3 linked regions of the Homo sapiens genome follow. The protein of the gene in region 3 purifies or fractionates together with the protein of the main gene of each other region. This does not show direct contact. Each region holds a gene or a part of one and is shown on either strand. Other genes may lie near its edges. The genes, in order: RNF185, NPC1 and SIGMAR1.

Region 1 (10,538 bases), on a different chromosome or scaffold from region 3:
CTCAAGTGATCTGCCCGCCTCAGCCTCCCAAAATGCTGGGATTACAGGCATTAGCCACCACACCTGGCCAGGTTTCACTTTTATTTTCACACAGTCAGTGAAATCTCATTAATTCATATTCTATAAAATGTCATTAATTCATATTTTACCTGAGGTTGAGCTAAAGACCTCTAAGATATTCTGAAGGTAGAGTATAAAAACAATAAGTTTGACAAGATCTAACCAATTAAGTAGAAAACTTTTTAAATTTTAATACCCGGTATATACTTGACAAAACAATGATCTCACTTCTCCTTTCTTTTTTTTGAGATGGAGTTTCGTTCTTGTTGCCCAGGCTGGAGTGCAATGGCGCAATCTTGGCTCACCGCAACCTCCGCCTCCTAGGTTCAAGCGATTCTCCTGCCTCAGCCTCCTGAGTAGCTGGGATTACAGGCATGCACCACCACACCTGGCTAATTTTGTATTTTTAGTAGAGATGGTGTTTCTCCATGTTGGTCAGGCTGGTCTCAAACTCCCGACCTCAGGTGATCCGCTTGCCTCGGCCTCCCAAAGTGCTGGGATTACAGGCACAAGCCACCATGCCCAGCCTCTCACTTCTTTCAACAGAAGGTCCTGACTAGGACCAACTGTGATTAAAGATAAAACCAAAATGATACCATTTTGAAAAGTCTATAATATTGACTTTTACAAATTGCTCTTGTGCCTTGAGCCACCTCCATTGTATTTGTTACCAGTGCTGTTTGGCAAACACTTAGAGAATGCCAACTACCAGACCCATGATAAAAATAAATCAGGGCTGGGTGCAGTAGCTCACGCCTGTAATCCCAGCACTTTGGGAGGCCAAGGCGGGTGGATCGCCTGAGGTCAGGAGTTCAAGACCAGCCTGGCCAACATAGTGAAACCCTGTCTCTACTAAAAACACCAAAAAAAAAAAAAAATTAGCTGGTCATAGTGGTGGGCGCCTGTAATCCCAGCTACTAGGGAGGCTGAGGCGGGAGAATCACTTGACCCAAGGAGGCGGAGGTTGCAGTGAGCCAAGATGGCGCCATTGCACTCCAGCCTGGGCAACAAAACTCTGTCTCAAAAATAAATAAATAAATAAATAAATAAATAAATAAGTAAATCAGAGAAGGTCCTGGTTCCTGTGCTCAAGGAGTTTATAACCAAGTCAGAATGTAACTATTAAAAAACAAAAAGCTTCTCACACTAAGAAGTGCCTTGGCAGAGATGATAGTGTTAAGAAAAAACAACAAACTTCCTTAGGCTTTGCCCAGGATCCACTCCTGTATTCAGAGACCTGTCCATCTTTAAAAACCCCCACATGCCAGGCACAGTGGAACATGCCAGCTACTCAGGAGGCTGAGGCAGGAGGATTGCTTGAGGACAAGAGTTTGAGACCAGCCTGGGCAGCATACAAAGACCTTGTCTCAAAAATAAATAAATAAATATTAAAAAATAAAAACCTGGCCAGGCGTGGTGGCTCACACCTGTAATCCCAGCACTTTGGGAGTACAAGGTGGGTGGATCATCTGAGGTCAGGAGTTCGAGACCACCTTAGCCAACATGGTGAAACCCTATCTCTACTAAAAAATACAAATTAGCTGGGTGTGGTGGCACATGTCTGTAATCCCAGTTACTTGGAAGGCTGAGACATGGGAATCGCTTGAACCCTGGAGGTGGAGGTTGCAGTGAGCTGAGATCATACTACCGCACTCCACCCTGGGTGACAGAGTGAGACTCTGTCTCAATAAATAAATAAAATAAATAAAAAATAAAAACCACATCTGGCCAGAGGTGGTGGCTCATGCCTGTAATCCCAGCACTTTGGGAGGCCAAGGCGGGTGGATCACAAGGTAAGGAGATCGAGACCATCTGGCTAACATGGTGAAACCTCGTCTCTACTAAAAATACGAAAAAAATTAGCCAGGCCTGGTGGCAGGCAAATGTAGTCCCAGCTACTCGGGGGGCTGAGGCAGGAGAATGGCATGAACCCGGGAGGCGGAGCTTGCAGTGAGCAGAGATTGCACCACTGCACTCCAGCCTGGGCGACTGAACAAGACTCTGTCTCAAACAAACAAACAAAAAAAAAAAACAAAAAACCACATCACTGTTACATCACAAGGCACTTCTGAGGAGCAATTAAGAGAGCGAGTATCAGAGTCAGGTGCTATAGAAACTATCACAGGAATTAACCTGGCAACTGGACCCAGGACAGAATGGCCAGTGAGTCCCCTAGGCCATTTCCACAGAAGCAGACACAATCTGGCTCAATGAACATAGAAGTGCTGCTTCTAATCTTTGCATGTCCTTAGGCCAGCTGGAAGACAAGGATCCAACACTCGGGAGCTTTGTTCCCAACGACCAATGAAATGAAGAGATGGACTCCTGTCATCTACAGCAGATGCAGAGTAGAGAAGTACGGTTTGAAGGCTGGGTGTGGTGGCTCAGCCAGTAATCCCAGCACTTTGGAAGGTGGAGGCAGGCAGATCACTTGAGCCCAGAAGTTTGAGACCAGCCTGGGTAACATGGCAAAACCCCATCTCTACAAAAAAATACAAAAATTAGCCAAGAGCAGTGGCGCATGCCTGTGGTCCCAACTACTCAAGAGGCAAAGGTGGGAGGACTGCTTGAGTCCGGGAGGCAGAGGTTGCAGTGAGCTGAGATCACGCCACTGCACTCCAGCCTCGGCGACAGAGAGACCCTGTCTTTAAAAAACTAAAAATTAAAAAAAGAGAAGTAGGGTATGATAACCAGGCAGCAATTAGGGCCGCCTCTGAGAATTTTAAACCAGGAGCCACTTGGTCATGACTTTAAAAACTATATTTCTGGCAATGATTTCTTGGAATGACACCAAAAGTACAGGTAACAAAAGAAAAAGTAGACAAATTGGATTTCATAAAAATTTAAAAATTTTGTGCATAAAAAGACACTACCAATAGAGTAAAATGGCAATTCACAGAATGGGAGAAAATATTTGCAAATCATATATCTGAAAAGGAATTAATATCCTGAATACATAGATAACTCCTAAAACTTAACAACAAACAACCTGATTCAAAAGTGGGGCCAGGTATGGTGGCTCAGGCCTGTAATTCCAGCACTTTGGGAGGCTTAGGCAGGCAGATCACTTGAGGTCAGAAGTTTGAGACCAACTTGGGCAACATGGTGAAACCTTGTCTCTACTAAAAATACAAAACAAATTAGCCAGGTGTGGTGGCACACGCCTGTACTTCCAGCTACGTGCGAGGCTGAGGCAAGATAATTGCTTGAACCCAGGAGGTGGAGGTTGCAGAGCCCAGATTCCACCACTGCACTCCAGCCTGGGCAAGAGAGAGAGAGACTCTGTCTCAAAAAAAATTTTTAAAGGGTGGTGGTGGGGCGGGGGGGCAAAGGACTTGAATAGAGACATTTCTTCAAAGAAGAAATACAAATGTCCCAAAAGTACACAGAAGGGTGCTCAACATCACTAATCATCAGGGAAATGCAAATCAAAAGCACAATGAGATACCATCAGAATGACTACTATTTTTATAACACCAGAAAATAACAAGTTTTGGCAAGGATGTAGAGAAATAGAACCCCTGTGCTCTGTTGGTGGGAATGTAAAATGGTACAGCTGCTGTGGAAAACAGCACAGAGGCTCCTCAAAAAAATTAAAAACTGAACTACCATATGATCCAGCAATTCTACCTCTAGGTATGTACCCAAATAATTGAAAGCAAGGTCGCAAAGAAATAGCTATACATCAATGTTCACAGTAGCAGTATTCACAATAGCTGAAACATGGAAGCAATCCAAGTTTGCATCGACAGATGAATGGATAAGCAAAATACATACAACGGAAAATCATTTTATCTTAAAAAGGAAGAAAAATTCTCACATATGCTACAACATAAATGAACCTCAAGAACATCATGTTAGGTGAAGTAAGTCAGTCAAAGGAAGACAAATACTAAGCTGGGTGCAGTGGTGCCCACACATAACCCCAGCTACTTGGGAGGCTGAGGCAGAAAGTTCACTTAAACCCAAGAGTCTGACACCAGCCACACGGTTAGGCCTCATCTTCAAAAATAAAAAGGACAAATACTGTATGATTCTACTTATATGACGTACTTAGAGTAAACAAAATCATAGAGACAGAAAGTGGAATAGTGGTTGGCAGTGGCTAGGGGGAAGAAGAAATAGGGAGTTATTGTTTAATAGACACAGAGTTTCACTTTTGCAAGATGAAAACAGTTCTGGAGGTAGATGGTGGTGATGTTTCTAGAACATGAATGTACTTAATACCACTGAGCTGTACATTTAAAAAAATGGTTACGATGGTAAATTTTATATGAATTTCACTACAATTTAAAAAACTGGGCCCAGGTACGGTGGCTCATGCCTATAATCCCAGCACTCTGGGAAGCCAAGGCAGGCGGATCACTTGAGGTCAGGCGTTCGAGACCAGCCTGGGCAAATGGCAAAACCCCATCTCTACTAAAAATACAAAAATGAGCCAGGTGTGGTGGTGAGCGCCTGTAATTCCAGCTATTTGGGAGGCTGAAGCACAATAATTGCTTGAACCCAGGATGCGGAGGTTGAAGTGAGCTGAGATGACACCACTGCACTCAGCCTGGGTGACAACGGAGTGAGACTGTCTCAAAAAAAAAAAAAAAAAAAAAGGAAAAAACCCCCCTACGTTTCCATAAAAGGTCATACATTGTGTGATTTTCTTATTAGAATCTTATTAGAAATATCCAGAATAGGCAAATTCATACAGATAGAAAGTGGATCAGAGGTTACCAGGAGCTGGGGGGAGGAGAGAATGAGGAGTTATTGCTTCATGGGTAGAGTTTCTGTTTGGTATGCTGAAAAAGTTTTAGAAATAGTGGTGATGGTTATACAACATTGTGAATTTACTTAATGCCACTGAATTGTACATTTAAAAATAATTAAAATGGGCCAGGCACAATGGCTCACTGCTGTAATTCCAGCACTTTAGGGGGCTGAGGCAAGAGGATTGCTTGAGCCTCAGAGGTTGAGGCTGCAGTGAGTTGCCACTACACTTCAGCCTAGGCCACAGAGTGAGACCCTATCTCAAAAAAAATTTAAATAGATAAAATTAGTTAAAACAGTAAATATTGTTATGTACATCTTACCACAATAAAAAAAATTTTAAGAAAATCTATGCTCCTTATTTAAAAATCAAAACTACATTTCTATCCCACTAAGAACACACCAAGTACTTATTATACACATTACGTCTACATAGTAAGACTTATTAAATAAATGAACAGTTAAGGAAATGGAAATCTATGTAGGCCATCAGAAGTAACGCTTATAGGCCAGGTGTGGTGGCTCACGCCTGTAATCCCAACACTTTGGGAGGCTGAGGTGGGTGGATCGTCTGAGGTCAGGAGTTCGAGACCAGCCTGGCCAGCATGGTGAAATCCCGTTTCTACCAAAAATACAAAAATTAGCTGGGCATGGTGGCAGGCACCTATAATCCCAGCTACTCGGGAGGCTGAGGCAGGAGAATCATTTGAACCCGGGAGGTGGAGGTTGCAGTGAGCCAAGATCGCACCATTGCACTCCAGCCTGGGCAACAGAGCCAGACTCTGTCTCGAGAAGAAGAAGAGGAAGAGGAAGAGGAAGAAGAAGAAGAAGAAGGAGGAGGAGGAGGAGGGGAAGGGAAGGGGAAGGGGAAGGGGAAGAAGAAGAAGAAGAAGAAGAAATGCTTATAGAAGAGGCTGGCAAAAACATGGAGACATTAAAATTAAAGTGTGTGTTTTCTTCAGTTTTAGATGTTAATAAGAAAAAGCAAGATATGGACCTGTGTACAGTGAGTGATTCCAACTATTAAAAATGTGCCCCGTAGCAGGAAACAAGAAGGAAATATAGCAACTGCAACAAAGGTTCTCTAGATACTAGAGCTAGGGATGACTAGGGTGGGGAGAGGGAGATTTTTCTGTATTTCCCAAAATGTCTAAAATGAGCACATCGGCAGGGCATGGTGGCTCATGCCTGTAATCCCAGCACTTTGGGAGGCTGAGGTGGGCGGATCACTTGAGGTCAGGAGTTCGAGACCAGCCTGGCCAAGATCATGAAACCCCATCTCTACTAAAAATACAAAAATTAGTCGGGCATGGTGGCACTTGCCTGTAATTCTAGCTACTCAGGAACTGAGGCACGAGAATTGCTTGAATCTGGGAGATGGAGGCTGCAGTGAGTCAACACTGTGCCACTGCACTCCAGCCTGGGCAACAGAGCAAGACTCCATCTCTAAAAAAAAATAATAATAAAATAAGCACATACTACTTTCACAATTTACATTACTGAAGCTTTTGTTTGTTTCAAGGTATGTGTCCAAGATGGTTTGGTTATGGCCAAATGCTGTAGGGTCAAGATAGGCCTAGGAGCACTGTAGTTATGTAGCTATGAGCAGCTAGTCCTGAGCATTCAAACCACCACTGACTCCTCTACTCCCTGCCTATAACCAGACATACAGCAGAGTGGCACCCAAAATGAAGGCTCCCTGACTAGTCTTATCATATCTTGGATGACAACCTCATTTCTGGACGCAAATAGTACCCTTCCTTTCACTTGCCCATGGCCACTCCAACTCCACATGGCCAGAAGTGGCTGGGTTTGAGTCAAGCTCTGCATGGTCAGTAGCCTCAAATGGAAATTTACTTTGTGCTTTAGTATGTCCAAATCCAACTACATTCAGATCAGGGACATACTGGCATTGCCTCAGAATTTGCAGGTCAAATCACTGAGTTATTTCAAGAGATCTGCAAACTCTTTGAATACCTACATTCAAAATTGTACACGATAACAAATAACTCAATTACAAAATGAGCAAAAGATCTAAACAGACATTTCTCCAAATAAGATATGCAGATGGCCAATAAGAACATCATCATCATCATCATCAGCCATTAAGGAAATGCAAATCAAAACCACAATGAGATATCACTTCACACCCACTAGGAGAGATATAATTTTTTTAGTGGGCAATAACAAGTGTTGTGGATGCGGAGAAACTGGAACCCTCATAAATTTTAGTGCAAATGGCCAGGCGCAGTGGCTCACACCTGTAATCCCAGCACTTTGGGAGGCTGAGGCAGACAGATCACCTGAGGCCGGGAGTTCCAGACCAGCTTGACCAACATAGAGCAACCCTGTCTCTACTAAAAAAAAAAAAATACAAAATTAGCCGGGCGTGGTGGTGCATGCCTGTAATCCTAGCTCCTCGGGAGGCTGAGGTAGGAGAATCGCTTGAACCTGGGAGGCAGATGTTGCGGTGAGCCAAGATTGCGCCACTGCACTCCAGCCTGGGCAATAAGAGTGAAATTCCATCTCAAAAACAAACAATTAAAAAAAAAATAAATTTTAGTGCAAATGCAGGCCGGGTGTGGTGGCACACCTGTAATCCCAGAACTTTGGGAGGCCGAGGCAGGTGGATCACCTGAGGTTGGGACTTCAAGACCAGCCTGCCCAACATGGTGAAACCCCACTCTACTAAAAATACAAAAAACAGCTGGGCATGGTGGCACACGCCTGTAATTGCAGCTATTCAGGAGGCTGAGGCAGGAGAATCGCTTGAACCCGGGAGGGGGGTTGCAGTTAGCTGAGATCATGCCACTGTATTCCAGCCTGGGTGACAGGGTGAGACTCCGTCTCAAAAAAAAAAAAAAAAAAAAAAAGACAATGAGGAACTGTCCCAGATATCTGATGAGACCAGGGAGACTTGACAACTAAATGTGATGTAGGATCCAGGATTGGGTCCTGGAACAGAAAAAGGACACAGTGGGACAAATAGCAAAATCTGAATAAAGTCTCTAGATTAGCTAGTAATATTGTATTAATGTTAAATTTCTTGTTTGGATAATTCTGATATAATTATGTACAGTTTTGACATTAGGTGAAGTTAGATGACAGATATACAGAAAGTTTGTGAATTATTTTTGCAAGTTTAGTATAAGAGTAAAATTATTTCAAAATAAAAAGGCCAGGCGCAGTGGCTCACGGCTGTAATCCCAGCACTTTGGGATGCCAAGGCGGGTGGATCACCTGAGGTCAGGAGTTCAGGACCAGCCTGGCCAACACGGTGAAACCCACCTCTACTAAAAATACAAAAATTGGCCAGGTGTGGTGGCACATGCCTGTAATCCCAGCTACTTGGGAGGCTGGGGCAGGAGAATCGCTTGAACCTGGGAGGCACAGGTTGCAGTGAGCTGAGACTGTCCCACCGCATTCCAGCCTGGGCAACAAGAGTGAAACTCCATCTAAAAAATAATAATAATAATAATAAGGGGCCAGGCACGGTGGCTCAAGCCTGTAATCCCAGCACTTTGGGAAGCTGAGGTGGGTGGATCACTTGAGGTCAGGAGATTGAGACCATCCTGGCCAACATGGTGAAACCCCGTCTCCACTAAAAATACAAAAATTAGCCAGGCAAGGTGGCGTGCACCTGTAGTCCCAGCTACTCAGAAGGCTGAGGCAGGAGAATTGCTTGAGCCCGGGAGGTGGAGGTTACAGTGAGCCGAGATTGCGCCACTGCACTCCAGCCTGGAGGACAGAGTGAGACTCCGTTTCAAATAAATAAATAAATAAATAAATAAATAAATAAAATAAAATAAAAAGTTAAAAAACAATACATGGCTGGGAGTGGTGGCTCATACCTGTAATCCTAGCACTTTGAGAGGCTGAGGCAGGAGAATCATTTGAGCTCGGAGATTTGAGACCAGCCTGGGCAACATAGTGAGACCTCATCTCTACAAGAAACCTAAAAGTTAGCTGGGTGTGGTGGTGTGTGCCCGTAGTCCCAACTACTCGGGTGGCTGAGGTGGGAAGATGGCTTCAGCCCAGGAGGTCAAGGCTGTAGTAGGCTATGTTCGTGCCACTGCACTCCAGCCTGGGCAACAGAGCGAGTCACTGTCTCAAAAAAAAAAAATGTACACGATGCAGGTCAGGAATTGGCAATTTTTTTTCCATAAAGGGCCATAGAGTAAATACTTCAGACTCTGTGGACCATATGGTTTTTATGGGAAGTAATCAACTCCACTGAGTAGCATTAAAGCACCCAAAGACAATATGTAAATATATATGAATATAAATAAATGGGTGTGACTGAAATGAACACTGAAATTTTATCTTCCTGTAATTGTCACCTATGTAATATTATTCTTCTTTTATTTCCCATCATTTAAAAATGTAAAAAGCAGGCCAGACGTGGTGGCTCACGCCTGTAATCCCAGCACCTTGGGAGGCTGAGGCGGGCAGATCACGAGGTCAGGAGATCAAGACCATCCTGGCTAACACAGTGAAACCCTACCTCTACTAAAAATACAAAAAATTAGCCAGTCATCGGGGTGGGCGCCTGTAGTCCCAGCTATTCGGGAGGCTGAGGCAGGAGAATGGCATGAACCCAGGAGGCGGAGCTTGCAGTGAGCTGAGATGGAGCCACTGCATTCCAGCCTGGGCAACAGAGCGAGACTCCGTCTTAAAAAAAAAAAAAAAAGAAAGAAAAATGTAAAAAGCACCCTTAGCTCACAGACCATATAAACAAGCAGTAGGTCCAGGTTTGGTTCACAGCCTATATATAGTATGCAGATCCCCACTCTAGGTCAGAATTTGCTAACGTGTGCTTCAATTAAAAAAAAAAAAAAGATTTGACATCAAGTAGATTAAACAAATGGAACAAGTTATTATCTTGGCTTATAAGGCACATTTCCTTATTGCAGGACCTCTCAGTGGTTTTAATGTGGTATTACACATTGAGAAGCTCCAAGAAAGAATAATGGTATGTGGCTTTCTCAAACTTATTATTAGCATCAAATCCTTTTTTCAGAGCCACTTCTTCAGACCAGTGGCCTGAAGAACATACTTATGAGAATGTCAATTCAGACACTTCTTTAAAAGGAAACTTTTAGATCGAGAAGTTCTAAAAACTCCAACAAATTAAGATCATTTTACCCAGTACCTGGATAACATCTGAATAAGCATTTCACAACTTTTTTATTTTTTAATCTTGGGAAACACAAGTCGATAACTGGCAGGAAGTTTTGGCTCAACCCTAACTTTTGTGGCGGCGGGGGAGCAAGTCAGCAGAACTGGGTCATAATATGGAGCCTCTGCTCCCTAAGACAACATAAACATTCCTAAGCATTCTAGCAGGTGTTGAAAAAGTGATTTAGGCAGAGCTTTGTAATGCACAAAATAAGGACATAATAATGTTTGATTAGAAAACCAAAGGTATGCTAGAGGCCAGGCACAGTGGCTTACACCTGAAATCCCAGCACTTTGGGAGGCTGAGGCAGGCGGATCACTTGAGGTCAGGAGTTCGAGACCAGCCTGGCCAACATGGTGAAACCCCATCTCTACTAAATACTCAAAAAAAAAAAAAAAAAAGCTGGAACTTGTCATGTGTGTGAACTGGCAAGTCAAGTCTATAAGAGGACTGTTTTTATATGATGCATGGAAAGCTAGCCAACAGACTGCAAAAATTCTCTCACATCTATACACATATTGCTGAAGAGAGGATTCAAGCA
Region 2 (9,594 bases), on a different chromosome or scaffold from region 3:
TGTCTTTTAATAGTATCTTTTCATTTTAAATAGTATCATGTGTACAAGAAGGGCTAACACACTTTTGGAAAAGATTTTGGGTACGACTGCTGTTAAAATGATGTTCAGCATAGTATAGAATGTTAGATTCATTTTGCCCAAAGGTGCCACTAAAAAGGCAAAAGGTCAACACGTGTCCCGCTGCTGTAGAAGGTGGTCTCAGTCGTCCTGTAGACCCGACGTGGGCGGAGACTCAGTGCACGTGAGAGTGATGTTCACTGGTCCAGTCCCCTGCCGCCTGTGTTCCGAGTGTTTTCCTGATAATGTGGCTGGCTCAGCTTTCCCTTTAGTTTCTCACTTGGTACCTAGCTCTGTAGTGCAGAAATACTCTGAGAACATTGGAGTCCCCCACCGAAGTTTATATGCTTAGAAGACACTGCTAATCGTCTACTAATCATTTATTTTTACCCTTGAGTTAACACAAGGCAGCAAGAAATGGCGTTGTTATTGAGAAATTTTAATGTCGCATAATTTTTTTTTTTTTTTTTTAAGAGAGATGAACGTCTTCAAGGGGAAACCCTGGATCAGCAGCTGGGCAGGGTCCTAGGAGAAGTGGCTCCCAGTATGTTCCTGTCATCCTTTTCTGAGACTGTAGCATTTTTCTTAGGTAATTATGCTTTCAATCCTACCAGTCCTGTAGTCTGCTGAGCCTGGAGAAAGAAGGAGCTGGCTACCTGAACATGTCCCTTTGTGTTGCTTCCTTTTTTTTTTTTTCTTTTTTTTTTTTTTCTCTGAGACGGAGTCTCACTCTGCCACCCAGGCTGGAGTGCAGTGGTGCAATCTCGGCTCACTGCAGCCTCCGCCTCCCGGGTTCAAGCGATTTTCCTGCCTCAGCCTCCCAAATAGCTGGGATTAAAGGCACGTACCACCATGCCCAGTTAATTTTTTGCATTTTTAATAGAGATGGGGTTTCACCATGTTGGCCAGGCTGGTCTCGAACTCCTGACCTCAGGTGATGTACCTGCCTCGGCCTCCCAAAGTGCTGAGATTACAGGCGTGAGCCCCCGTGCCCAGCCCGTGTTGTCTCCTTTTTTTAAGCTTTGTTCTGCACTGGGAAAGTATCACTGGACCACAGAAAAATTGGCAGCAGTAACTTAGGTGTGATTTTGCAAGTGGCTTCCTTCTCATTTAACTGTCAGGACAGCATTGATGTTGGGGTTCAGGGTGAAAGAGACCTAGAGTTCGTCTTGCCACTTTCCCCTTTTAGTAGCCACTGGGAATGTTGATAGTTGAAAATGGCATCCTTGAGTAGCCACTGAATCCTTCTCCACATGACACTCTAAGCAGCAGCTCCCAAATCCACAGGCACTCGCTTACAAGATGTTTGCCGTTGTTTTCAAAGGCAGTCTTTCTCTTCTGTGCACACAACTCATTGGGGAAGCAGCCTTGTTAATGACCAGAAGCTCTTGACTCACCACATTACAAGGAGCCAGAATAAGCTGGAACAAAGTCAGCACTTCTGTGTTTCTTTCACATAGAGAATCATCAAATAGACCCACTAGTGGGGCTGTCTGCCCCATGTCTGAAGTGTAGTAAGAGCAAAGTGACTCTGTCCACTATAGGGGAGGCTGGACTGGAATCACTCAGTCCAAAGAAGACCATCCACGGGCCACAAACTGCAATGCCTACATGGCTGGGAGGTCAGCTTAATCAGGGCCATTGTAAGGTCATTGTAGGTGGTAGTCTTTCACCACAGATACACTGCTAGCTTGTTATTCTTCATCTCCACAAAGCCATGTGCTTTTGAAACCTGTAGCCCTGTAGTTCCTTTTGACAAACACAGGTGCAGAAAAAAAAAAAAAAAAGAAAAAACTTTCTTTTTTTCACTACTATTATAAGAAAACCAGTGCAAGTGTGATGATAATAGCAGCAGAGACTGTGCCTCAAGGTTGGAGTGACCTTGGGACAGTAGGAGTGAGTAGGGATTGTGGCACCCCAACTGCACGTGTCCTATCTAAAAAGACAGTTATGTGTGTGGCCAACCCAGTGCTACAAGGTCTGTGTTGTTGTTGTTGTTTTTCTTCCAAGCAAAGCTGTGAATCTAGATTTTTGTGTAAAATGCCATTGTTAAATATTGGCAACTTATAAAAAAAAGTTTTTTAATCTTAAGATGGGTTGATACAGTGTGGGCTAAACAGGAACCATCTGATTCATGGGCTGCCAGTTTGCAGTTTCCAAGTCTTACCCTCATGCCTTTGATCCTCACTCGATTGTAGATTACCTCTTAACTAAACTGGGAGGCTAGTAGTGTTGATGTAATAAATGGAAAATACTGTCCATTTCTTACAGTGAAGCACAGAAAGTACTATAAGAAATGGCCTGTATTAGTGGTTCTCAAATTTTAATGTGTGTGAATTTGCTGTGAACCTGAGTATAGTAGAATTGGGGTTGAATTCCTGTCATAACTAGGATGGGGCTTCCCAAATGGTCTGGTGCTGAGTGTGCTTTGAAAAGCACTGGCTTATCACCTCCTGTCCCACTTCTGGTGTAATGTCCAGCCGCAGCATGCCTTCTCATGCGTTTGGCCTGTGCTGGCTCCTTGTATCTGTACATGCACATGAACATAAGACCTGCAGAGAGCCCCCGGCTGTAAACAGAAGTGACGCAGAGCCCTTCTCTCCCCGACAGGAGCATTGTCCGTGATGCCAGCCGTGCACACCTTCTCTCTCTTTGCGGGATTGGCAGTCTTCATTGACTTTCTTCTGCAGATTACCTGTTTCGTGAGTCTCTTGGGGTTAGACATTAAACGTCAAGAGGTAAGTTGGTGCCAGGATTATAGTCTATTTAATTTGAGTCTAGAATCTAGAGGAAGCAGCTAGCGGGTATAACCTTTGTTTCCCTCTGTCCCCTCAGAAAAATCGGCTAGACATCTTTTGCTGTGTCAGAGGTGCTGAAGATGGAACAAGCGTCCAGGCCTCAGAGAGCTGTTTGTTTCGCTTCTTCAAAAACTCCTATTCTCCACTTCTGCTAAAGGACTGGATGAGACCAATTGTGGTATGCGCTTATCTGTGGTTTTTCTCTTTCCTCTCACTGAAACAGATTATCACATGCCTTCTAAGAAGCCAGACAGCCTGGGAAGGAGATTCTTAAAGCTGTTAAAATGTATCTAAAAAAAAAGCAAAAGCAAATGTGGAACAGTAGATAAAATGTTTTTCCTGTGAGCTTTTATCAGTCCATATAAACAAGAGTTTTAAGTTTTTTATTTTGAAATAGTTTCAGATTCACAGAAAGTTGCAAAGAAACTTTTATTTTTCCTCTTAATAATGAGGAAATAGAAGCCAAGAGAGGTGAAGTGGTTTGCCCCAAGTCACTCAGCCCGTAAGTGGCAGAGTCAGGATTTGCACCCAGGAATTTGGACTCCTGGTGCTGTGGTCTCACCCACTGCCCTGTACTCCCTATTAGCCTGTCATTTAAGCTTTTCCATTTTAAAAAATCCTGCTTTTTGTGTGTGCTTAAGATTTTATTTCTGGTCGTAAGCTTATTTACTAAGCAGTCTCTGTCTTATGATTCATTTGTTGTTCCAGATAGCAATATTTGTGGGTGTTCTGTCATTCAGCATCGCAGTCCTGAACAAAGTAGATATTGGATTGGATCAGTCTCTTTCGATGCCAGATGTAAGATGACTTCCTTTTTTTTTTTTTTTTAACTTCTTTAGCTGATGATGAATACATTTTTCAAAACATGCACGTAGGTGTTTCAAGCAAGTGCCTGCTTCTAACTGCAAATGGTGACAGGGTTTCCAGGGTTAGGAGAACTGTCGCAGTGCACTGCTGGTGTGGGCTGTCTGGCATTCTGACTGAGCCCCTCTGGGCACAGCTGCAGAACACGAATAACTAGTCTTATGAGGTTACTTTATGAGATGCTCTCCTGATTGTGGGGCTAGCAGGAGGAGCACCCTGGGGCCCTGGGGGGAAGACTGGTGGTGTTAGGAATCATGAGTCCAGCTGGAGGCATCTCAGCCAGGAACCTCCTGGCACCCTCTTATTCTCCATGATCCTCGCCTTGCTTAGTTACTATCAGAGTGTTCACACTCTCTCCTATTCTTTTATCTTTCTTTCAGGACTCCTACATGGTGGATTATTTCAAATCCATCAGTCAGTACCTGCATGCGGGTCCGCCTGTGTACTTTGTCCTGGAGGAAGGGCACGACTACACTTCTTCCAAGGGGCAGAACATGGTGTGCGGCGGCATGGGCTGCAACAATGATTCCCTGGTGCAGCAGATATTTAACGCGGCGCAGCTGGACAACTAGTCAGTACCACCTTGTCTTGTACTTCAGAAGCAGCGGAGGAGGCTCTCAGCCAGGCAGTCAGCTCAGGCCTGAAATGTCTCACTGAAAATAGACTTTCTTGGAAAAGTTGTTTTTATGCAAAATGTATGTTAAATCTGGCTTTACCTTAAAAAACCTTTGAAAGGACTAATTTACCACCTAATACTTTGAAGGCTTTTTTCATTAAGTGCTCATGTAGTTTTTCTTTTGACTGTTAGCAGTATAAAACGTAGAAAAGGAAGTTAGGTTTTAAGAAAAAGTACTGAAACTAAAGACTTCCTCCCTGTGGAGCAGGTCAGTAACCCTGTCTGTCCTCTCTAGTACCCGAATAGGCTTCGCCCCCTCGTCCTGGATCGACGATTATTTCGACTGGGTGAAGCCACAGTCGTCTTGCTGTCGAGTGGACAATATCACTGACCAGTTCTGCAATGCTTCAGGTACCTTCTCCTTTACCAAATCTTTCCTGTTTTGCTGAAAAATTTTCAAATTATCATTTAAAAATCATTTGCATCGTGCCTCAGTTTATACCTATTTGTATATCAAAGCTGGGTCTCCCTGTGTCATCATTCCTTTCCTCAGTCATTCATTCTGAAATTGTCATGTTGTTCCTGGCTCAGACAGCCACCCTCGGGGCTGCAAGCTGAACAAGGTCCACATGTTCGGAGTGTGGTTTCCACATAAGGTTTCTCATCCTGTTCTAACTCCAGCGATTGCCTCTCAGGATTGGTATCTGGCCTTAGCTTCTCAGAGGAGGGCTTTTCTTTATCACTTTACCCTGTGGTTTTGTAGGAGCGTCGAGGTTGCCCTGGAATTTTCTTAATAAAAACATAGAAGCCCCGGGCTCTGACCAGTCAAGGCCATACTTGAAGGAGGAGATCTACTTCAGGGCAGAAAATGATGCATAGTATGCCTAAGATGAAAATGGTATTTCAGATTCATTAAACTGTGAAAGTGACATGTGGCTGAAGCTTTTAGATAAGGGGAAAGATTATCCCTCACTAGTAAGGAAAGTAATCGATAGAGAAGAAAGTAATGCCCCTCACTGTCAGTATTTTAAAATGTTTTACAAAAAATCTGGAGACCTATTCTTCTAACAGTCCTCCCTGCATGTCTCCGCCAGTGGTTGACCCTGCCTGCGTTCGCTGCAGGCCTCTGACTCCGGAAGGCAAACAGAGGCCTCAGGGGGGAGACTTCATGAGATTCCTGCCCATGTTCCTTTCGGATAACCCTAACCCCAAGTGTGGCAAAGGGTAAGTGCTGCTGCCATTGCAGATAAGCATCCACTGCAACTTTAATTTGCAGTAGAAAACTAGGAGAGGACTGGGCTAAGACAGTTGCATGGGAACGTCTCTTCTCCGCCCCACCCTGTCCTGGTCCTTTGGTGGAAGCAGGAAAACCGAAAACACCTTTTTAAGAAAATGCCTCATAGTGTTCAACTGATTCTGTCTTAGCGTGGGCATTCACATCTCATGCTCTCTCTGTGTCCTGGCCCCCTGGGCATGAGAATGAACGCAGATTCCTGTGCACATTCCAAGCGGGGCTGAGGGAGAGGACGGCCTGCTGGTAATCCAGGCCTGAAGGAACTTGGCCTGTTCACTTGTACTGATGGCAGCTGGGGCGTGATCTTAGCTTTAGTAACATTATCCCACATTAAGGTTGCGATTCTTTTAGCCTCGTCATGCTCCTTGCCAGCCCATCCATGTATAGGGTTATGGGCTATCTCACTCCCCCATCCAGCCAGGCAGCCAGTTACCCACGGAAGCCAGATATATGGCCCAAAAATAGTGATGATGACCGGAAGTCTCTGGCCTTGATTTGGAAGCTTTGGGAGGTGGAAGATGAGTATCCCCATGTATGTTAGGTAAACCCTGAACTTAGGTTTTTCATAAGAACATACATCTGACCAGAGTCATATCAGTGAATCATTTATATCATGCATGTGCTTTGAGACCTATTCGAGGTATCATGGGATGACTCCTCCTAAAAGTTAAGTAGAAATGAATCTTGCAGCTTGATTTACTCACTGACTGGATGCTTTGGCCTACGTAAAATAAGTTGAAGTAGATTCAGTTTTTCTGAAGGCAGTAGCCACCGTTCCTGGGGAGCCTCCAGGGTGCCAGCGTCATGCCAGGCACTCCCTGACATTATTCCATTTCTCATCACGCAGCCTATGAGTAGGTGGTGGTATACCCATTTACAGAAGAGGAGACTGGGGCTCAGAGGTGGTCATTTTGCTCGGGGTTACATGACCAGTAAGTGGCAGGGCTGAGGTTGTTCCCAGGGCCCTTGCCCTTTCCTGCTTCCTATTACACAACAGGACTGAGTAAACCCTGTACCTTTGATTATACATGAAACCAGGTGGAGAAACAGCAGCTATGTACCAAAGAACCCAGAGCAATCGAGAAAAGCCCATCTGGCCAGGCGAAGTGGCTCACACCTGTAATCCCAGTACTTTTGGAGGCCGAGGTGGGCGGATCACCTGAGATCACCTCAGGAGTTCAAGACTAGCCAGGCCAACATGGCAAAACCCTGTCTCTACTAAAAAAATACAAAAGTTAGTTGAGCGTGGTGGCAGGTGCCTGTAATCCCAGCTATTCGGGAGGCTGAGGCAGGGAGAATTGCTTGAACCCGGGAGGTGGAGGTTGCAGTGAGCCGAGATCACGCCACTGCACTCCAGCCTGGGCTACAGAGCAAGACTCTGTCTCAAAATAAAAAAAAAAAGAAGCCAGTCTGGGAGAGAACAAGCTAAACCTTTGGTGTTCCCTTATCTGGGGGCCTTCTTCATCCCTGAAATGTACAGCTGGGTCTGACCTCTGAGTCCAGGGTCAGGTGATTTTGCTTAGCCTCAAGTGCTCAGATTCTGCTGATATTTTGCAAGACCTGGACTCTCTTGACACCCAGGATTCTTTCCTCAGGGGACATGCTGCCTATAGTTCTGCAGTTAACATCCTCCTTGGCCATGGCACCAGGGTCGGAGCCACGTACTTCATGACCTACCACACCGTGCTGCAGACCTCTGCTGACTTTATTGACGCTCTGAAGAAAGCCCGACTTATAGCCAGTAATGTCACCGAAACCATGGGCATTAACGGCAGTGCCTACCGAGTATTTCCTTACAGGTAAAGCCTGCCCTTTTTCAATGGGGTTTACCCAGCAAAGGGCCTACACTGGGTGGGAGTGGGGAGGGTTCCCTTGGCAAGATGCTGATTTTCAGGTTGGGTTCTGGCCCCTGCTCCATTCTGAGCACAGGGCAGTATATCAAAGGAAATGGGTGCTGGGCAAAGGAGTTCAGAATCTAAAGTCTCTGTGAAGGCCTGAGGGCTAGAGACGCAAAACTTGATCTCTGCGCCACTGCACAGCTGCAAGAGACACACACTGGAAAATGGCTTAAGGCAGGGGGCGCTTGGAGAGCAGGCGGCTCAGAGCAGGGCCCGGCCCACATTCTTGGCCAACAATGAACCAGAATCCCTAACTGCTGGTTATTTGGGATGCTGCCTGTATGTAGACTTTTTATATTGTTAGGGGTTTTTTTTCCCAGGAAGAAAAGTATTATGTATGAACTACTGAATTTAGAAACTGTAGAAAGGTAGGAGAAACAAGTGATTTATTTTTCCTGCCTCCCCATGATCTCGCTTAAAGCAGGAAGGCCTGGATTTGTTTGGAAGAAGTTAAGAGCCGGTTAGCTCTGGCAGAAAATAAATGAAAGCATGTTTTCCTCAGGCCTTGCACGGACCCCGCTGAGCCTGAGGTAGTGTCTCAGGATAGATCAGGATTCTTTGTTTTTTTGTGTTTTTTCAGAATGCTGTGGAATGCTCTCTGTAAATGTCTATAAAATAGCATAGATTGGGCTTATAAACAGAAACTTTATCAAAAATATACATTTTGCATCACTGCTGGGCCCTTCTCTGGGTGGTCAGTGGCCATGAGAGGTCAAGTGAGTTGCTTTCGGTGAGTCTTGTAGACAGCCAGCAAGGTTTTCTGCAAGGGATGTTTCCCAAAGGAGTCTGACCACTTGGCAGTGGTGACAGGATGAACACGCAGTGTTCGGGAGTGAGAGCGAGCTTTAATGAGGCCTCCCCTCTCCCCTCCAGTGTGTTTTATGTCTTCTACGAACAGTACCTGACCATCATTGACGACACTATCTTCAACCTCGGTGTGTCCCTGGGCGCGATATTTCTGGTGACCATGGTCCTCCTGGGCTGTGAGCTCTGGTCTGCAGTCATCATGTGTGCCACCATCGCCATGGTCTTGGTCAACATGTTTGGAGTTATGTGGCTCTGGGGCATCAGTCTGAACGCTGTATCCTTGGTCAACCTGGTGATGGTGAGTCCTCATACAGTCTCAGTTTGTCCCTAGCTCCTGTTTCACTTGGGGGAATTGGCTGTCTTAGATTCCATGTAAACCCTAAAGATGGAGTAAGATACCAAGTCTGGCGCTTGCTCTTGGCACACATGGAGAGGCAGGATGAGTGCTGGAGGAGTGCTGGATGGTGGTGGGACAGGGCATAGAGGGAGCGAGCATTGAGTTGGACATCTGGGAGCATAGGCACATTACAGGCAATTTCTGTTCAATTTTTTCTCTTGTCCCATTCCTTGCGGCTATACTAGTATACCTGATGGTGCCTCTGACCATGGAAATGTGATTTCCTGGCCTAGTTCTGGGCTAGTCTGCCTGTAATTTGTTATTCTTTAGAGATTGCACAAGCCTGTAGCCTGATGACAGCAGGATGTTCACTTTTTACTTAGAAAATTGCACCCCGCCCCAGGAGCTCTCCGACCAGTGCCTTTTGCCTCCTATGTGGTTATCAGGTACTTTTAATCATTAAAGATGAGAGCACTTGAGAAGGTATTCATGGAAAATAGAACAGTGTATCCGTACTCTCAGATATGAGCCCTGCTTCAGATAGGGGAGCACTGAGGTCCAAGAAAAGAAGTTGTGACAATGCGCCAGCTCGGTGCGGGTGGGGTGACCTTAACGGGTTCCAGCAATTTCTCCTGGTCAACACAAACGTGCCACAGAAAACCAGGCTTTTGGCTGTGTGTAGAGAGGGCCCCAAAAAGTTCCTGGTACAGTAAGATTGGTGTGATGGAGGCCTTGTAAGTCCAATGGGATGCTTGGCCTCCTCTAGCACCCAGGGTGCCCTGGGTAATTAGCACCCATCCTCAGAACGGGGTGGCTGCCTAGGGTCTTCAACAGGAAGAGAGCCATCCTAAAGGAAGTGCTTTATTTCAGAGCTGTGGCATCTCCGTGGAGTTCTGCAGCCACATAACCAGAGCGTTCACGGT
Region 3 (11,066 bases):
GGCAAGCTGGGTCATCCCTGACATGTGGGCTCTGAGCCTAGAGGCAGAGCTGGGTTACAGAGTAGGAATCCCCCAGGAGGCATGGATTTGCAACCTGGGGTGAGTGGAGAGGAGCCAGCCAGGGCCTACTATGCCTGACACGGTGGTATTGGGGGTGAAGAGTCGGTTTCAGGTTGGCCAACTTACCTGGACTCCACATTCAGTCACAAATTGACTTTTGATGTTGTTTCTAAATGCAGTTATACATATAGTCTTTCGGATTTGTGTTCTTTAGAATGTTAAAATATCTAATTTTTATAACCATGTTTCTTCCATTTTTAAAATACCAGGAATCCTGAGAAGCAGGAGTGATCTATGCCTTACCCTCAGAACAGGGCCAGGACGAGGGTGAGGCATGCTTGGTGTGTAAAATGCAGAAGTTAAGGCAAGAGCAGGGTCTTTGGGAATGAATGCACTTTAGGCACCTCTCTTGCCTTACCTGAGTCCAGGCCCTACCTACCTCACATACTGCCAGGTAGTGTGCCTTCCTTTCATTGTGGGAGCCTCCACATTAGTGGTGGGTCCTGGAGAAGGCAGACCATAGACTGGAGGATCTCCTGTTTTGGGTGGGGGCAGACACTACTCTGGGAGCCCAGAAAAAAAGCCAACTGAGAACTATGCCTTTCAGCTAAAAAGTGGGTGCACACTGCCACCCTGTGGTCAGCCAGGGGAAGATTCTTAGGACTGTTCCCAGGATTGCACCGGCAGAGGTAAGACCAAGACACACTCCAGGTCACCCTGCCCTGAATTTCTCAAATTGTGGCATTCGCAGCTGTGTTGGAAGAAATCTTATTGAACATGTTGATCTCTGGCAATGGAGCTCAGTAGTCTGAGTTACTGACTCAAAGAGTGTCTTAGGTGATTCTAAGGCACACTCAAGTATATAGTCCCTACTAGTCAAAAGCCACTGTCTTGTCAGGCATGGTGGCTTGTTTCTGTTATCTCAGCTACTCTGGAGACTGAGGAAGGATCACTTGAGGCCAGGAGCTGGAGATCAGCCGGGGCAACATAGCAAGACCCCATTTCTAAAAAAAATTTAAAAAGCTAACCAGGCATGGTGGCATTTGCTACTCATAAGGTCCCAGCTACTCATAAGGCTAAGGCAGGAAAATTGTTTGGGACCATGAGTTCAAGGCTGCAGGGAGCTATGATCATGTCACTGTGCCACTGCACTCCAGCCTGGGCAACAGAGGAGACCCCATCTCTTAAAAAAAAAAAAAAAAAATCTACCATGAATCACACAGCAAGAGAGAGATCTTCCTGAGGTCCCCAGGGGTCAGAGGCTTTTTCCGGCTGCTCAGACACACAAAAAGATGGAACAGATCAACAAATCTTTATTAATAGAAACAGACAGATGGACAGAGAATGCAGCAGGGGCTGTGTGAAAACTGTGATATGTGTGTGTGTGTGTGTGTGTGTATGTGTTGTGTGTGTGTAAAAGGCCTTCTCCAGGCCAGGAAGGGCCCCTTGGAATTAGGCCCACCTGTCTAGATCCTCTCCTCAGTGGTGGGTCCTGGGCTGAAACCAGCTTCCACATCATACCCCCAAAGGAAGAATGGGGGTCTTTCTGGAATGGAAGACGCTGACTTCAAGCATTCTTCAAATTACTCTCGTTCCCCAGCTGAGCTTTGTTGCTGAGGGGGTTGGGGACAAGCCACAGGGGCACTTGCATAGCAGGGGAGTAGAATGGGGATAAGGCATATGGTGAGGACAGGGGAGAAGGGGAAGGGCATCATAGCTGCAGGTGAAGGGGGCCTCCAAAAGGCAGCTCCTCTTCCCCCTCATCCCCTCAAATTGCTGCTGGGTTGAGGAGTCAGACTGAGGCAGTATAATACCCTCCCCCATCCTTAACTCTAGAACCCCGGTTTGGTGGGGAGGAGGTGGGAAGCTGTGGAGCTATGGAAAGGCCTCAGTTAGTGAGTCAAGCTGTGATGTGTGTGTCTGAACACAACTGGCTCCCTTGGTATACCGGGGGCTCCCTCTCCAGATGGGTGTGAGTGCATGGTCCTACTGTACACACAGGTCTCAGTATCTATATGTGTCTCATTTGTTCCCATGGGTCTCTGTGTTTGGATACATAAGCATGGATATCCCTGCTCATACAGCAGGAACTCAGGATCTGCATGGTGTATGTCCCTGTCTGTAAACATGGGCTCCAGCAAGTGGATATGTGCGGGCCTGCCCGCTCCTGTCTATCCGCAGGTCTTCCTTCAGGCCTGGCTGGTCAAGGGTCCTGGCCAAAGAGGTAGGTGGTGAGCTCAAGCCGGAGGCCCCGAGCATAGGAGCGAAGAGTATAGAAGAGGGTGAGGAAGTCCTGGGTGCTGAAGACAGTGTCGGCCAGCGCGAAGGCCAGGGTGGATGGGATGACGCCCCGGCCGTACTCCACCATCCATGTGTTTGGCCCCCACTCCACAGCTGTTGCCTCACCAGGCCCGTGTACTACCGTCTCCCCTGGGGGACAGGGAGCACCCAAGTGAAAAGCCAGCTCTGCCCTGCCCTTCCATGGCTGCTGCTTCCCTGGCCCATGGACTAACTAGGGGTGGGGAATGGAGAGGGAGCTTCAGAAAAACAAAAAGCCCTACCTCACTGGGCTGGCCCAGATGGCCACTCCTAAATGTTCTGTGGCATCATCTGACCCACGTCCTCTCTTTGGAGAAGCCATGGACGGCTACCTCGCTTGGCCATGGACCCACTGTATGGAAGTCTGCACTCCCAAGCCTCACTCGAATCAAGCAGAAATTTAGCTAAACCTGGGCTGGGCTTGTAGCTAGGAAAGGGGTAGTTCCAGGACTTGTGAGGCTTTATCTGAAAAGTGTAGCTGTTCAACCACCATGCCTGCGATGCATACACCCAACCTCAAATATACTGGGAAGTCCAGTGCTCTATTTCTTAAGTAAATTGTTTCACTATTAAAAAAAAAAAAAAAAAAAAAAGGCAGGGGAGCGGCCGGGCGCGGTGGCTCACACCTGTAATCCCAGAACTTTGGGAGGCCGAGGCGGGTGGATCACGAGGTCAGGAGATCGAGACCATCCTGGCTGGTATGGTGAAACCCCGTCTCTACTAAAAATACAAAAAAAATTAGCCGGGCGTGGTGGCGGGCGCCTGTAGTCCCAGCTACTCGGGAGGCTGAGGCAGGAGAATGGCGTGAACCCGGGAAGCGGAGCTTGCAGTGAGCCGAGATCGCGCCACTGCACGCCAGCCTGGGCGACTGAGCAAGACTCCATCTCAAAAAACAAACAAATAAAAAGATAACTGTCTGTCTTGTCTTTTGGGGTATTGAGAGCATTTCTGATTACCCATTGTCTCCCCAACAGTTGTTGGAATACTGTCTGGGCAAAATTGTGCCTGGGCAGATAAAAATCAGACATGTTTAATAGGAAGTTGTTATGTTTTGTTTCCCCTTGACAGAGGAAAGCAAGAGTCCCTCAGCTCTGCCCCAACCAATCACCTGTGGCTTATGGGAGGGTGGAGGAAGGGAACCATGAGGAGGGCCCCCCCAACACACTCCTTTTCCATGCCATGCTCCCCGCAATTGTGGGCACCCCCCGCGTGAAGGGACCCACTTCTCTGACAGAGCCTTCTTACCCACCTGGGTAGAAGACCTCACTTTTGGTGGTGCCCTCTCTCCACTGGTGGAAGGTGCCAGAGATGATGGTATCCGAGATCTCAGCCCAGTAGCGCCCTGAGTGACAATCGCACATGACACTATCAGGGTATTCGCGCCATTGCATGGCCCAGCCAAACATCAGAAAGGAGGGCATGGGCCCCTTTACAACCCCAGCCTCCCAGTCTGGCCCGCCGCTAGCACTGACCCGAGTGGCCGCGGGAGCCCAAGGCGGTGCCGAAGAGCAGCACATACTCGGACAGCGAGGCGTGCAGAAGGCACATGGCGCCCATCCAGCCACCCGCATTCACGAACACCCACTGCAGCTCCTCGTCGGGCAGCACGTGGCCTGGGTGCAGCCGCCGCAGCTCCACGATCAGACGAGAGAAGGCCAGCTCGTGGTCCAGCCCTGGCGGAGGCAGAGGGGCGGCGGAGTCAGGGCTGGCACCGGTCCTAGGTCCGGGGATGGCGCCTTCGGAACCCTAGGCTCCGCTCCCAGGCCGGCCGCTCCCCTCCCTGCCCTCTGCCCGCTCACCAGCGTACTGCCGCGCCAACTGCGCTATCTCTTCGCGCTGGAAGACGAAGCTCTGCGTACCCAGCCAGAGCCAGACGACCTGGGTCAGCACCGCTGCGACAGCCAGGAGCAGCGCGGCCCACGCCCACCGCCGGCCCACGGCCCACTGCATCCCGGCGGGCGGCCTGGCACGGCGCAGCTCAGGAGGGAGCCGGGGCCTGAGGCTTTGCGCTCACGGCCTCGGAGCCCGCCGGCTGCCCACGAAGCGCTCCCCCGCCACCGCCGTGGTACGGCTCGCCCTGACCAATCGGAGCGGCCCGGGCACCTTGGCACCGCCCTTCGGTTGAACCATTTCCTCGGGGGGAGCACGGAGGAGTGGGGCGGTGCCGCGCAAGGGAGGCAAGGGGGCGGGGCCAAGTCGCCCAGCGGCAGATGTCAGGGTCTTCAGGCGAGGTCTGACCTAGCTAGCGCCACTCTACATACGGATAGGTGTGGGGATAGTGAGACCCAGAATGGACGGGCTCGCCCGAGCTCACTGGCTGGTGAAGCAGACGAGCCCGGAAGTGAAGCCTTCTGGGACTCAACGATTGTTAAGGCCCGCCTTTACCAGGACTGAAGCGGAGAGGAGGCAGTTCAAGCTGGGAGCCCCAGGGTGGGCATTCCAGAGGCGGTGACACCTGAGCAGTGTCTTTAAGAGCTCGCAGAAGGGGCATGCCAGCCCACAGGGACCAGCCCCTAGAGCAAAGGCCTCCGAGGAGAGACAGCTTGGGGTCTTCAGGGGCCTACAATTCCTTCTCTGTTCTGCGGCACAAAATGTGAGAGGAGGCCTTGTAAACCAGCTGAGGGTTATCAGCAAGGGAGGAAGGGGATTAGATTTTGCCACCGAGTGGCACAGGACTGTCGAGTGGAGGGGAGCAAGATGAGTCAGGGAGACCATGACTGTGGGCCAGGTAAGAGGGAAGGTCTGTGTCAGTGGAGATGGAAGAAAGAAATGAGCTTAACAACTCTGGAAATGGAGTTGGCAGGGCTTGATCTCTTCTTCCTGGAATACTCTTTCCCCCTTTATCCTATCCCCACTTTCCCCTTATTTGGCTAACATCCTTTGCATGTCTAGTGGGCAGTTGAGTGTCCAGGTCTCGAAGCTCAGCTCCAGTCTGGAGATAGAGCTGGGAGTTGTCATTCATTCAGATACTTTGTTGGCACTTGTATGTGCCAAGTTCTGTGGTGGCCATTAGGGATATGGCTAGAAACAATGGTCCTACTCCCCAGCTTAGAGATCTCACTGGAGAGTCTACAGAAAACCTCTAAGAATGGATGAAATCTCACAGGGAGAGAGAATAGAGTAAGATAAGGCTAAAGACAGAGCCCTGGAGAGCACCAACAGCAAAGGGTAGGCAGAGGAAGAAGAAAGCAAAAAGGAAAAGAAACAAAAGAGAAAAGAGGTAGCATTGTGCAGTGATTAAGAAATAAACTCTGGAGCTGGACTGCCTGAGTTCAAGGCCTGGCTCCTGCTACCTACTAGTTGTCTGATCTTGGGCAGTTTACTTAAAATCTCTGTAACTTAGTTTTCTTACCTGTAAAATGGAATGGAGATAAGTACCTACCTCATAGTACATATCTTCATTGTGATGAGATTAGATGGGTTAATATTTATAAAGCAGTTAGTGCCTCACATGGTGAGAATTTTATGTGATGGTTATATATATAAAACATAAAGGAACTGGAAAAAAGTAGCCTCATACATTTTTGACCTTAAAGAAAGAAACTGAGGCCGGGCGAGGTGGCTCATAACTGTAATCCCAACACTTTGGGAGGCTGAGGCAGACGGAACACTTGAGTCCAGGTATTCGAGACCAGCCTTGGCAACATGGTGAAACCCCATCTCTGCAAAAAGTACAAAAATTAGTCAGGAGTGGGGGCGCACACCTGTAGTCCCAGCTACTCAGGAGGCCGAAGTGGGAGGATCGCTTGAGCCTGGGAAGTGGAGGTTGCAGTTGAGCCAACAGAGGGAGACTCTGCCTCAAAAAAAAAAAAAAAAAAAAAAAAAAAAAGGGCCAGGCACAGTGGCACACACCTGTAGTCCCAGCACTTTGGGAGGCCAAGGTGGGCAGGCAGATTTCCTGAGCTCAGAAGTTCGAGACCACCCTGGGCAACATGGTGAAACCTCGTCTCTACTAAAATACAAAAAATTAGCCGGGCGTGGTGGCAGGTGCCTGTAGTCCCAGCTACTCGGGAGGCTGAAGCAGAAGAATCGCTTGAACCCAGAAGGTGGATGTTGCAATGAGCCAAGATCGTGCCACTGCACTCCAGCCTGGACAACAGAGGGAGACCCTGTCTCTAAAAAAAAAAGAAAAGAAAAAGGGGCCGGGCACTGTGGCTCACACCTGCAATCCCAGCACTTTGGGAGGCCGAGGCGGGTGGATCACCTGAGGTTGGGAATTTGAGACCAGCCTAACCAACATGGAGAAACCCTGTCTCTACTAAAAATACAAAATTAGCTGGGCGTGGTGGCGCATGCTTGTAATCCCAGCTACTCAGGAGGCTGAGGCAGGAGAATCACTTGAACCCAGGAGGCAGAGGTTGCGGTGAGCCGAGATCACGCCATTGCACTGCAGCCTCAGTGTGAAACAGCAAAACTCCGTCTCAAAAAAAACAAAACAGGCTGGGCGGGGTGGCTCACGCCTGTAATCCCAGCGCTTTGGGAGGCCGAGGCAGGTGGATCACGTGGTCAGGAGTTCGAGACCAGCCTGACCAACATGGTGAAACCCCATCTCTACTAAAAAATACAAAAATTAGCCGGGCGCGGTGGCGCGTGCCACCCACTTGGCCCAGCTACTTGGGGGGCTGAGGCAGGAGAATCGTTTGAACCCGGGAGGTGGAGGTTGCAGTGAGTGGAGACTGCACCATTGCACTCCAGCCTGGGCGACAGAGTGAGACTCTGTCTCAAAAAAGAAAAACACACAAACAAAAACAACAGTGAGGAAAAAAAAAAGCTGAGGCAAAATTAATATAGAGAGTTTATTTGGGCCAAGGTAGAGAACGACTGCTCGGGACACTTTTCCAAGTTGCCTTGGGGAATGTTGATACAAGCATTTTTTATTTTTATATGTGGTTTTTATTTTTATTTTTTATTTTCTTGGAGATGGATTCTTACTCTGTTGCCTAGGCTGGAATGCAGTAGTGCAATCTTGGCTCACTGCAACTCCCGCCTCCCAGGTTCAAGCTATCCTCCTCCCTCAGCCTCCCGAGTAGCTGGGACCACAGGTGTGCACCACCATGCCTGGCTAATTTTTGTAGTTTTAGTGGAGACAGGTTTTTGCCATGTTGGCCAGGCTGGTCTCTAACTCCTGACCTCAGGTGATCCACACTCCTCGGCCTCCCAAAGTGTGGGATTACATGTGTGAGCCACTGCACCTGGCCACTTTATTTTAACTTAATTTAATTTTATTTTTTTTGAGATGGTGTCTCCACTGTCGCCCAGGCTGGAGTGCAGTGGCGCAATCTCGGCTCACTGCAACCTCTGCCTCCCAGTTCAAGAAATTCTCCTGCCTCAGCCTCCCGAGTAGCTGGGACTACAGGCACCTGCCACCACATCCAGCTAATTTTTTTGTATTTTTAGTAGAGATGGGGTTTCACCATGTTGGCCAGGCTGGTCTTGAACTCTGACCTCGTGATTTGCCCGCCTCGGCCTCCCAAAGTGCTGGGATTATAGGCGTGAGCCACCGCGCCCGGCCTATTTTTATTTTTTGAGACCGGATCTTGCTCTGTTACCTAGGCTGGAGTTCAGTGGCACGATCACAGCTCATTGCAGCCTTGACCTCTTGGGCTCAAGGGATCATCCTGCCTTGGCCTCCCAAAGTGCTGGAATTACAGGTATGAACCATCATGCCCAGCCACAAGCAAGTTTTTAAAGGCAAAAGAGGACAAGGAGTGGGCTGACACAAAATTGTTTAACAGGAATTCTCATTGGCTTACAGAAACAACATTGATTAGTGATTGGCTATACCTTGTTGAACTATAGGGTATGAGTTATGGTGTCTAGACTATGGCATTTTATGGCTATGTGGTATCAATTTAGAGCCCACATAGCAAGTGGCTTCAAGGGGTAATTATTTGGCTCCATGGGGGTGGGGGAAGGTGAGATATGACTGCTGTTACATGCTGTCACTTTTTTTTTTTTTTTTTTTTGAGACTGAGTCATACTCTGTCGCCCAGGCTGGAGTGCAGTGGCGCAATCTCGGCTCACTGCAACCTCCGCCTCCCGGGTTGAAGCGATTCTCCTGCCTCCGCCACCCAAGTAGCTGGAATTACAGGCACCTGCCACTATGCTCAGCTTTTTGTATTTTTAGTAGTGACAGGGTTTCACCATAATGGCCAGGCTGGTCTCAAACTCCTGACCTCAAGTGATCCCGCCCGCCTTGGTTTCCCAGTGTGCTGGGATTACAAGTGTGAGCCACTGCACCCGGCCTTTTTTTTTCTTTTTAAAATTATTATTATTATTATTATTATTATTTTGAGACGGAGTCTCTTGCACTGTCGCCGGGGCTGGAGTGCAGTGGCATGATCCTGGCTCACTGCAACCTCTGCCTCCCAGGTTCAAGCAATTCTCCTGCCTCAGCCTCCTGAGTAGCTGGGATTACAGGCGCCCGCCACCATGCCCAACTAATTTTTTGTATTTTTAGTAGAGACAGGGTTTCACCATGTTGGCCAGGCTGGTCTCGAACTCCTGACCTCGTGATTCGCCCACCTTGGCCTCCCAAATTGCTGGGATTACAGGCGTGAGCCACCGCGCCAGGCCCATGCTGTCACATTTTAATGCCTCTCTGGGCCTGATAATTAAAAGAGGCTGGCATTTCTCAGATAAAAAGTTTCTTTTCTTTCTCAAGAGTGATGGAATGGGCCAGGCACGGTGGCTCACACCTGTAATCCCAGCACTTTGGGAGGCCGAGGTAGGGGAATCACCTGAGGTTGCCAGTTCAAGATCCAGCCTGACCAACATGGAGAAACCCCATCTCTTCTAAAAATACAAAATTAGCCAGGCGTGGTGGCGCATACCTGTAATCCCAGCTACTCGGGAGGCTGAGGCAGGAGAATCGCTTGAACCTGGGAGGCGGAGGTTATGGTGAGCTGAGAGCACGCCATTGCACTCCAGTTTGGGCAATGAGAGCGAAACTCCATCTAAAAAAATTAAAAAAAGAGTGATGGAATGAAGGGTTAACACAGTGAAATATAATGGTGAGATTCAATGAGATGATGGGAAATGATCATTAGACTTCTCAGTAGGGGCATGTGGCAGAGACAATGCTATACATTCACAAATCCATTTCCTTTTGCTCTTGGACAGCTAGATTACATTCCACAGTCTACTCTGGATCATGTGATTGCATTCTGGCCAATGAAATATAGATAGAAATGATGTATGACATTTCTAGGGCTGGCTCCTAAAGTCTCCTCTGAAATTCTTTTTTTTTTTTTTCTCTTTCTCTTTTTAAGAGACAGGATTGTGCTATGTCACTCCCAGACTGGTATCAAACTCTTGGGCTCAAGTGATCTCCCACCCTGGCTTCCCAAGAGCTGGGGGACTACAGGCACATAGTACTATGCCCAGCTTGAAGTTCTTTACATTTTCTTTCTTCCCATGTCTATTACTGTAGTTATAGAGGATCTCTAGTGGAGTATTCTGAGACCCTAGGACATGGCATAGCTACTAGATGGATGGCACCTGGATCCCTAAATACTGCTTGGAACAGAGCTCCCTGTTACCCCCAGAATTGACTGTAGTGCTAAGCCATTGAGTTTTGGGAGTGTTTGTTACAGCAATTAAGATTACTTACCCTGACAAATATAGGGCAAAAGATGTGTTACAATATACCATGCAGCTAAGAGTAGAGACCAGAAAGATGGCCTCTGTTTTTAAGAAACTTGGCAGGCCGGGCACGGTGGCTCACGCCTGTAATCCCAATACTTTGGGAGGCAGAGGCAGGCGGATCACCTGAGGTCAGGAATTTGGGACCAGCCTGGCCAACGTGGTGAAACCCTGTCTCTACTACAAATACAAAAATTAGCTGGGTGTGGTGGTGCACGCCTGTAATCCCAGCTACAGGGGAGGCTGAGGCAGGAGAATCACTTGAATCAGGAGGCGGATGTTGCAGTGAGCCTAGATTGCACCACTGTACTCCAGCCTGGGCGACAGAGCGAGACTCCATCTAAAAAAAAAAAAAAAAAAAAAAAAAAAGAAACTTGGCAGAGAAATTAAGGATAAAGAAAGGATTATCTAGAGGAGAATACAGGATTGAGGGAACATGTTTTTGTATTGGTTCTGGCTTCTGTGGCATTCCCGACTCGACAATTCACTAAGAACCCTGGGCAGCAGGGATTAGCCCCCAAATTTGGTCTCTGCTCCCCATTCCAGGAACAGCTTTCTGGGATCATCTGGGCCTACACCTCCCCTATCTGGTCTTTCAGAAAGCTTTTCCAGGCCTTTCCAGGTGTGGTGACTTATGTCTGTAATCCCAGCACTTTGGGAAGGCCGAGATGGACAGATTACCTGAGGTCAGGCGTTCAAGACCAGCCTGGCCAACATGGTGAAACTCTGTCTCTAAAAAATACAAAAATTAGCTAGTCATGATGGTGGGTGCCTGTAATTCCAGCTACTCGGGAGGCTGAGGCAGGAGAATCACTTGAACCTGGGAGGCAGAGGTTGCGGTGAGCCGAGATCAAGCCACTGCACTCCAGCCTGGGCAACAGAGTGAAACTCCGTCTTAAAAAAAAAAAATTATATATATATATATATATATATATATATATATATATATATATATATATATATATATATAAATGGATAACCAGCAGCCCTCAGGGGTGCTCTGTCTATGGAGTGGCCATTTTTTTATTCCTTCACTTTCCTGA

What was found.
Region 1: the proteins of SIGMAR1 (region 3) and RNF185 purify together in Homo sapiens (affinity purification with mass spectrometry; 3 studies listed by BioGRID and IntAct, with this or other methods). This does not show direct contact.
Region 2: the proteins of SIGMAR1 (region 3) and NPC1 purify together in Homo sapiens (affinity purification with mass spectrometry; 3 studies listed by BioGRID and IntAct, with this or other methods). This does not show direct contact.

What each region holds. Positions count from the first base shown.
Region 1 is NC_000022.11:31,161,737-31,172,274, reverse strand, and holds part of RNF185 (E3 ubiquitin-protein ligase RNF185), read right to left. Parts: intron 1-10,538. UniProt on the Homo sapiens protein: E3 ubiquitin-protein ligase that regulates selective mitochondrial autophagy by mediating 'Lys-63'-linked polyubiquitination of BNIP1.
Region 2 is NC_000018.10:23,534,507-23,544,100, reverse strand, and holds part of NPC1 (NPC intracellular cholesterol transporter 1 precursor), read left to right. Parts: intron 1-531; coding exon 532-646; intron 647-2,667; coding exon 2,668-2,795; intron 2,796-2,892; coding exon 2,893-3,033; intron 3,034-3,563; coding exon 3,564-3,653; intron 3,654-4,099; coding exon 4,100-4,290; intron 4,291-4,630; coding exon 4,631-4,746; intron 4,747-5,429; coding exon 5,430-5,559; intron 5,560-7,224; coding exon 7,225-7,428; intron 7,429-8,400; coding exon 8,401-8,632; intron 8,633-9,541; coding exon 9,542-9,594. UniProt on the Homo sapiens protein: Intracellular cholesterol transporter which acts in concert with NPC2 and plays an important role in the egress of cholesterol from the endosomal/lysosomal compartment.
Region 3 is NC_000009.12:34,633,369-34,644,434, forward strand, and holds SIGMAR1 (sigma non-opioid intracellular receptor 1), read right to left. Parts: upstream 4,420-11,066; 5' UTR 4,330-4,419; coding exon 4,179-4,329; intron 4,053-4,178; coding exon 3,852-4,052; intron 3,745-3,851; coding exon of another isoform or gene 3,722-3,744; coding exon 3,629-3,721; intron 2,491-3,628; coding exon 2,264-2,490; coding exon of another isoform or gene 2,250-2,263; 3' UTR 1,354-2,249; downstream 1-1,353. UniProt on the Homo sapiens protein: Functions in lipid transport from the endoplasmic reticulum and is involved in a wide array of cellular functions probably through regulation of the biogenesis of lipid microdomains at the plasma membrane.